Homo sapiens: one gene and its partner. The protein of the gene in region 1 purifies or fractionates together with the protein of each later gene. This does not show direct contact. Each region holds a gene or a part of one and is shown in the gene's direction. Other genes may lie near its edges. The genes, in order: TRIM49 and MYLK2.

The links.
Region 2: the proteins of TRIM49 (region 1) and MYLK2 purify together in Homo sapiens (affinity purification with mass spectrometry; one large-scale study listed by BioGRID and IntAct). This does not show direct contact.

What each region holds. Positions count from the first base shown.
Region 1 is NC_000011.10:89,801,776-89,805,596, reverse strand, and holds part of TRIM49 (tripartite motif-containing protein 49), read left to right. Parts: intron 1-1,123; 5' UTR 1,124-1,127; coding exon 1,128-1,538; intron 1,539-1,803; coding exon 1,804-1,899; intron 1,900-3,664; coding exon 3,665-3,821.
Region 2 is NC_000020.11:31,829,356-31,832,590, forward strand, and holds part of MYLK2 (myosin light chain kinase 2, skeletal/cardiac muscle), read left to right. Parts: intron 1-1,463; coding exon 1,464-1,534; intron 1,535-1,657; coding exon 1,658-1,786; intron 1,787-2,347; coding exon 2,348-2,500; intron 2,501-2,648; coding exon 2,649-2,781; intron 2,782-3,235. UniProt on the Homo sapiens protein: Implicated in the level of global muscle contraction and cardiac function. Phosphorylates a specific serine in the N-terminus of a myosin light chain.

The sequences.
Region 1 (3,821 bases):
TCCAATATAGGCTGTCTCTAAGCTGGTGTCCTGAGAATACCGGTATCCTGGCTAAGCTCAAGTCTGAAAGGTTCAGAACAAGTTTCAGGAGAGAGACGGAGGAAGTTGCCTTTTTTCTGCCTTTTTCTTTATATCTGAGGTGTCAGCTGATTGGATGGTGCCCACACACATTGAGAGATGAGGCTCCCACTCAGCTCACCAGCTCACATGTCTCTCTCCTCTAGAAACACCTTCACAGACTCACCCACAAACAATGCTTCACTAGTTCCCTAGGTGTTGGTTAATCCAGTCAGACTGATACCTAAAATTCACCATCACACTATGGAAATATAATTACACCTCTCTGAGTTTAACAAAAACCTCCTATATGTTAGTTCAGAGCTTGCACAGCCCTAGGGGAAGTTAATTTAATCCGCAAGAAAATAAAAAGACCCAATATCTTTAATAATTTTTCTTTTCCCTACTAGTGAAACTTGATTAGTTTAATTGCAGTCTTTTTCTTTGTTTATTTGGTTGGTTGGCTTTTTTTTAAATTTTGTTTTGATTTGGGTCTTTGTTTTTAATTTAATTTAATTTTAAGTCCTGGGATAACTGCAGGACTTGCAGGCTTGTTATGTAGGTAAACTTGTGCCATGGTGGTTTGCTGCCCGGCTTTTGTGACTCTCTATAAAAATATGTCATAGAACCATCTTCTCATATTTCTTTGGCCATCTTCTCATATTTCTTTGGCCCGGGTAGTTTTTTCCCTCCCACTCTTTCACAGTCATTCATCAGTTATTGAAAGAAGAATAGGGACAACTATGATTTATTCTGACCACTTAGAATCAAAACCCAATTTCCAGATCTATGTTCAGAAAATGGGTAGTTGAATAGGTTTGTATTATGCTACAGACAGGAACTAGGAGTAGAAGGGACTGTGAGTCCTCTGGTTAGTAATATCTGTTAGAAAGCCAGGAGACTCCCTCTAAGTGTAAATTTTTAAGTTTGTAACAGAAGAAATAGTTTGTTGTACTTTAATGAACACTGTCAAGAGAAGAAAATATAACTATCACATATCTCCACATGTTTAGAAGGTTTTCATCAACCCAGGCCCCAAAATGACATGTTTCTCTTTGTTCCTCAGAAACATGAATTCTGGAATCTTACAGGTCTTTCAGGGGGAACTCATCTGCCCCCTGTGCATGAACTACTTCATAGACCCGGTCACCATAGACTGTGGGCACAGCTTTTGCAGGCCTTGTTTCTACCTCAACTGGCAAGACATCCCATTTCTTGTCCAGTGCTCTGAATGCACAAAGTCAACCGAGCAGATAAACCTCAAAACCAACATTCATTTGAAGAAGATGGCTTCTCTTGCCAGAAAAGTCAGTCTCTGGCTATTCCTGAGCTCTGAGGAGCAAATGTGTGGCACTCACAGGGAGACAAAGAAGATATTCTGTGAAGTGGACAGGAGCCTGCTCTGTTTGCTGTGCTCCAGCTCTCAGGAGCACCGGTATCACAGACACCGTCCCATTGAGTGGGCTGCTGAGGAACACCGGGTAAGTGATGGCTCTGAAGATCGATTTCTGTAAAGGAAGCATAAAATTCCTGTGGGTCTATTTTCTTGGAGATTGGATAAAGCCAACTCTGAGTCCCTTTAAGCAGCTCTGTTTGGGCTTTCTTAGCTTCCAACCTCTGGGCTTTGACAAACATGAAGGGAAACAAAGGAAATGCCATTTACTAGGGGCTTATTTGTCTCTCATTCTGGGCCCCCTCCCTATGTCATGGTCTGCACTGGTGCTTCAATTTATGGCTCTTTTGCAGGAGAAGCTTTTACAGAAAATGCAGTCTTTGTGGGAAAAAGCTTGTGAAAATCACAGAAACCTGAATGTGGAAACCACCAGAACCAGATGCTGGAAGGTTAGTCCTGTACTACTCTACCTTCTCCAGGAACTTATGGTGGGCAAATGGGTGACTCTTAAAATAGGAACTTGATATCAAACTGTAATGTTTCTGGGATACAGTAAAAAAAAAAAGGCGAGAGAAAACACTGAGAAAAAGTGGCCTCATTTTTATATAGAATAGTATGCCTGTTAGGTAGGATTTCTAAGAAAACTACTGATGTCACCCAAAGCATGCTGGTTTGTTTCATACAAACCTATAGTTATACACCAACAGATCCAAGAAACTGGGCCATCTCAAAGCATTCTATATTTGCTGGTTGGATAAATGCTAGGCAAAAGGGTTATTTGGCAGTCATGGAATGCTCAACTGAAACTTCTGAGTGTCGGTCAGCATTAATCTGAATGCTAGTGTGCAAGTAGTATTTGGAATTGCATGGAAAATTTGAGGCAGAAAAAGTGACAGGGCAAATCTAGGGAAACCATGAAATTAAGAATCTCAACTAATTAATATTGAATAATACATAACATACGATGAGAAAAGCGGTGAGAAATACGGATTTGTGTCTTGAGGGAGACATGTAAACATGCCAGAAATATGGGAACTAGTATCTAAACATAAGGAGAACTCTGAGGACTTCAGAAAAACATTAAAATAATTTTCTCTTCGTGGATGTATATTTTGAGGGTATGATAGCTAAGATTAGTTTGTTGAAAAGTATTTCATGAGAACCTAGTCTATGTTGAATATTAAATTAGAAAATATACTAGTAAAGAAGAAAGGAAGCACCTTTGTCCTCACAAATCATACAATCCAAATAAGAGAGTCAAATTGTCAATACACAAATATATGCAATACATGATGTATTTGAGTGTGGTAGGTTTTTGTTGGAGAATAATCAAGCAGGGAAGTAGAAAAGGACAATAGAGGCCAGAAACTGGAGATTAGTGTTTGAGTTTTAAATAGGGTGGTCAGAAAAAAGACTCACTGAAAAATTCAAATTGAAACAAAGTTTTGAAGAGGAGGGGGAACACAAATGTGTGTGTGGATATATATGTGGACCATGAGTGTGTATATGTATGTATGTGTGTGTGGTTGTGTGTATATATGTATGTATGTATGTATGTATGTATGTGTGTGTGTTTGTATACATATATATGTAATTCTAGTTGGAGAGAACAGCATATGCAGTAATTTTGAGTTTGTGTATATTTGGAGGCCGGAAGAACCACAAAGAAGTCTATGTTTCAGACTGGGATGACTTAGAAAAAGAATAGAAGGAAATGAATTCAGGGAGACAAAGATGGCCAAATCATAAATGCAGCCTTATTAGGATAGGTTTTGCTGAGCGAAATGCACTTAGCTGGACATGCTAGTCTAAGGTCATTTTCATATAATGAGTTTAAGCAACTTGGTGCATATCTCAGAAATAGAAAGAATTGTTTCCTTTCTAGTAACTATAGCCCTATACTCCAACTCTCAAGCATGAACTGTTCTTACTTTGCCATAAATATGGGTTGGAATAGAGAAATTCAAATTGTGTTTTTTTGTTTTCAACTATCTTAGAAAACACATTATCTTGAATAAATTTAACGTAATTGGTCAGATACAGCTATGTTGATCTTTATGCAGAAAAAAGGAAAGGAACAAAATTTGTAGATTCTAAGAACTGGCAAGACAGAAGTTTGAACTATTGGACGTTCGAGAGACAAAAGGAATCAGTGAGATTTAATAGGAGATGGATATATACATTTCTCTTTTGACTAACCCATTATCACTGCAGGATTATGTGAATTTAAGGCTAGAAGCAATTAGAGCTGAGTATCAGAAGATGCCTGCATTTCATCATGAAGAAGAAAAACATAATTTGGAGATGCTGAAAAAGAAGGGGAAAGAAATTTTTCATCGACTTCATTTAAGTAAAGCCAAAATGGCTCATA
Region 2 (3,235 bases), on another chromosome or scaffold:
CTGTGTGTAGATGGAGAATCTCTGAAAGGAAATTTGAGTCTGCTTCATTTCCCCAAATGCTTGTACCCTGGGACCCTTCTTTTCTTTCCTGTTTTGTGGGACACCAGGCCAAACTATTAAAATCATTAGTATCTGCTCTGAGTGAATCTATCAGTTTTAAGAGTGCCTTCAGAAAGCGTCTCCTTAGGGGACTTGAGTCAAATGCCCACAGAGCCCAGACAAATAACAAATACATGTTGAATGGGAGGGATCAGGGGGTGGTGGCGACCATGGGAGAGTTGGAGGACATTTGTCTCATCTCAGGCTGTTAGTGGCAACTTGTTCCAAGGCATATGGCCCATGTGGCCAGGGCTTCCGGTGTTTCAGGAGCTGCTGGAATTCAGGGTTTTTGTGCAGAATCTCCTGCCTTTGAACCATTGTTAACTTAAAAATGTTTATACCCTGCAACCTCAGATTAGTCCTGTGTCCTTGTGTGATAGGAAGAGGAAACAGAGGCCCAGAGTGGAGAGGAACTGGGCTTACAGTAACGTCATCCATGTGTTAACTTGGCTGAGCCCCTACTGGGTGCCTTTGTTAGACCCTGAGGGTGGGACCCAGGAGGCCAGGAGAAGACAATCCCTGGCCTGGAAGAGCCAACCCTGTAGTGTTATATTCACCCCAGAGTGCAGGATCAGTGGTGGTAGCGGAACATCACAAGGCCAGTGCTGGAGTCAGTCATGCGTTCATTTCCTGGCTCCGTCGCTTACTTGCTGGGCAACTGTGGCCGAGTCACTTCTGTGTCTGAGCCTCAGCTTTCTCAGCTGCCAAATGGGAATGGATGGTAATAGTATCTCAATGTCACAGTTTCATCTCAAGATAACAGTGTGTGCCTCCTAGATCTTTGGGAAGGACTGGGGAGCTAAAGTGAGAAAGTGAGTGGACTGGGCCTGATGTTTTGTAGCTCATCATCCTCACTAACTGGGGAGACAAGAGTAGCGCATCTTCCAGTGACCCTGGAGTAGTGTGAAGCCCCGTGTTCCCAAGAGGCTTCCTGTCAGGAACTGAGCTGGCATCTTCTTTCTCTGTTCTCTGGAGCTTCATGTATCTGGTGGTGGTCCTGCACTGGCCCCCCAGCCTGGGGGCGGGGATAGCAGGCTGTCATGCCTCCTCTCCACAGGCTTCTGTTTCCCCATCCTCAGAACTGCTAGAATGTCGTGTTCTTTCATGGCCTTAGATGGAGGGAAATCTCACCTGAACCCATCACGGCAGGTCCTGTGCTTCAAGGCCTCGCATAAGCCCCTCGTGGGGGACTTGCCTCAAGATCTCTCTGTGCCCAGAGCAGGCAGGGCTGGAGGGTCTCTGGCAGCTGCCCACTCTGGCAGCTTGGGCCTCTGCCTCAAGGAGCCTGGGGTTTGCACGGGCCTGGTGGGAGAGGGAGGGTGAGCTGGTCAGAGGCCCACCCAGGCCACCCCCTTTCTCCTCAGCCAGAGAACATCCTGTGTGTCAACACCACCGGGCATTTGGTGAAGATCATTGACTTTGGCCTGGCACGGAGGTACCACCTGGGTGGGTGGGGAGGGCAAGACAAGCCTCTGAGTTGGCAGGGGACAGGGGTGGGGTGGAGGGGGCATGGGTATAGGCCAGGAGCTGTGCTCTCAGCCCTTGGTCTCACCCCCAGGTATAACCCCAACGAGAAGCTGAAGGTGAACTTTGGGACCCCAGAGTTCCTGTCACCTGAGGTGGTGAATTATGACCAAATCTCCGATAAGACAGACATGTGGAGTATGGGGGTGATCACCTACATGCTGTGAGCTCCCAGGCGGGTCGTGTTTATGGGGTTGGTGGGGCATGGGGGCGAGCGGCCGAGGCCAAGATTGGCCCTAGGGTCTTGGTAAGGTGGTCCCACCTCCCCTATCCCTCAGTCAGGGGTTTGCTGGGGTTGGGAGTGCTAGGGAGAACAGGAAAGGGGAACGTGGTACCCATTTCATAGATGGAAAAACCAAGGTCCCTATAAAGGCATAGCATCTGGACAGCAGATCTCGGATGACCTGGGGCGGGCAGAGGGGCAGTGGACATTTCCTATGTGCTCACCACATACCTTGCACTCGTCATTCCTCATCACTGCCACCTAGGAAGCTGGGATGATTATGCCCATTTTACAGATGAGAAGAGTGAGGCTCAGAGAGGGGAGATGACTTACCCAAAGTCACCCAGCCAGATTCAAACCCAGGTCTGTCCCACGAGAGGCTGGGGGTCTTTTCAGCACACGGTGCTGCCTCCTAGGATCTGCCCCTGTTCCCTACCCCTCTGAAGGTGACTCAGCACCTCCAATCTCACCTCCCTGCCCCCTGCTATCCCCTCCCTCTAGGCTGAGCGGCCTCTCCCCCTTCCTGGGAGATGATGACACAGAGACCCTAAACAACGTTCTATCTGGCAACTGGTACTTTGATGAAGAGACCTTTGAGGCCGTATCAGACGAGGCCAAAGACTTTGTCTCCAACCTCATCGTCAAGGACCAGAGGTGAGGCTCACCCCAGAACCTGAACTGTATGTGTGCAAGCTTAGTGTGTCTGAGTGCTGGCAGGGCGGGAGCCAGGTAGAGAGGCCAGCTGAGCCCCTGGGGCCTCACGAGCATGCAGCCCACCGTCACCATGCTGCCTCTCCCCCAGGGCCCGGATGAACGCTGCCCAGTGTCTCGCCCATCCCTGGCTCAACAACCTGGCGGAGAAAGCCAAACGCTGTAACCGACGCCTTAAGTCCCAGATCTTGCTTAAGAAATACCTCATGAAGAGGCGCTGGAAGGTACCGCTGGATTCAGGGTGGGGAGGGAGGGCTTGCTAGTGGGAAGAGCTCCTGGTGCCAGATCCCAGCCTCCACCGTCCCTGCCTTGGCAGGTTCTGTTGACCAGGCTGGGCCCTGTCCGGAAGACAGGGTTGACTTTTCTGTTTTTGCCCTGGGCTGGCTCCTGTCCTAGAGTGGAGACCTCTACCCGGCCTTCCACCCAGCCCCACCCATCTGGGGCTCTGGCTTCCCTCCTTCATTTTTCAAATATTTCTTGAGCATCTACTACTTCTAGGCATTGGGATATAGGAGTGGACAAAAGAGACAAAGATCTCAGTCTTTGTGGAGTTACTTTTGGTGAGAGATGGGGCATTTTCTATCTTTTTTTCTTTCTTTCAATACAGTCTTGCTCTGTCACCCAGGCTGGGGTACAATGGCGTGATCTCGGCCCACTGCAACCTCTGCCTCCCAGGTT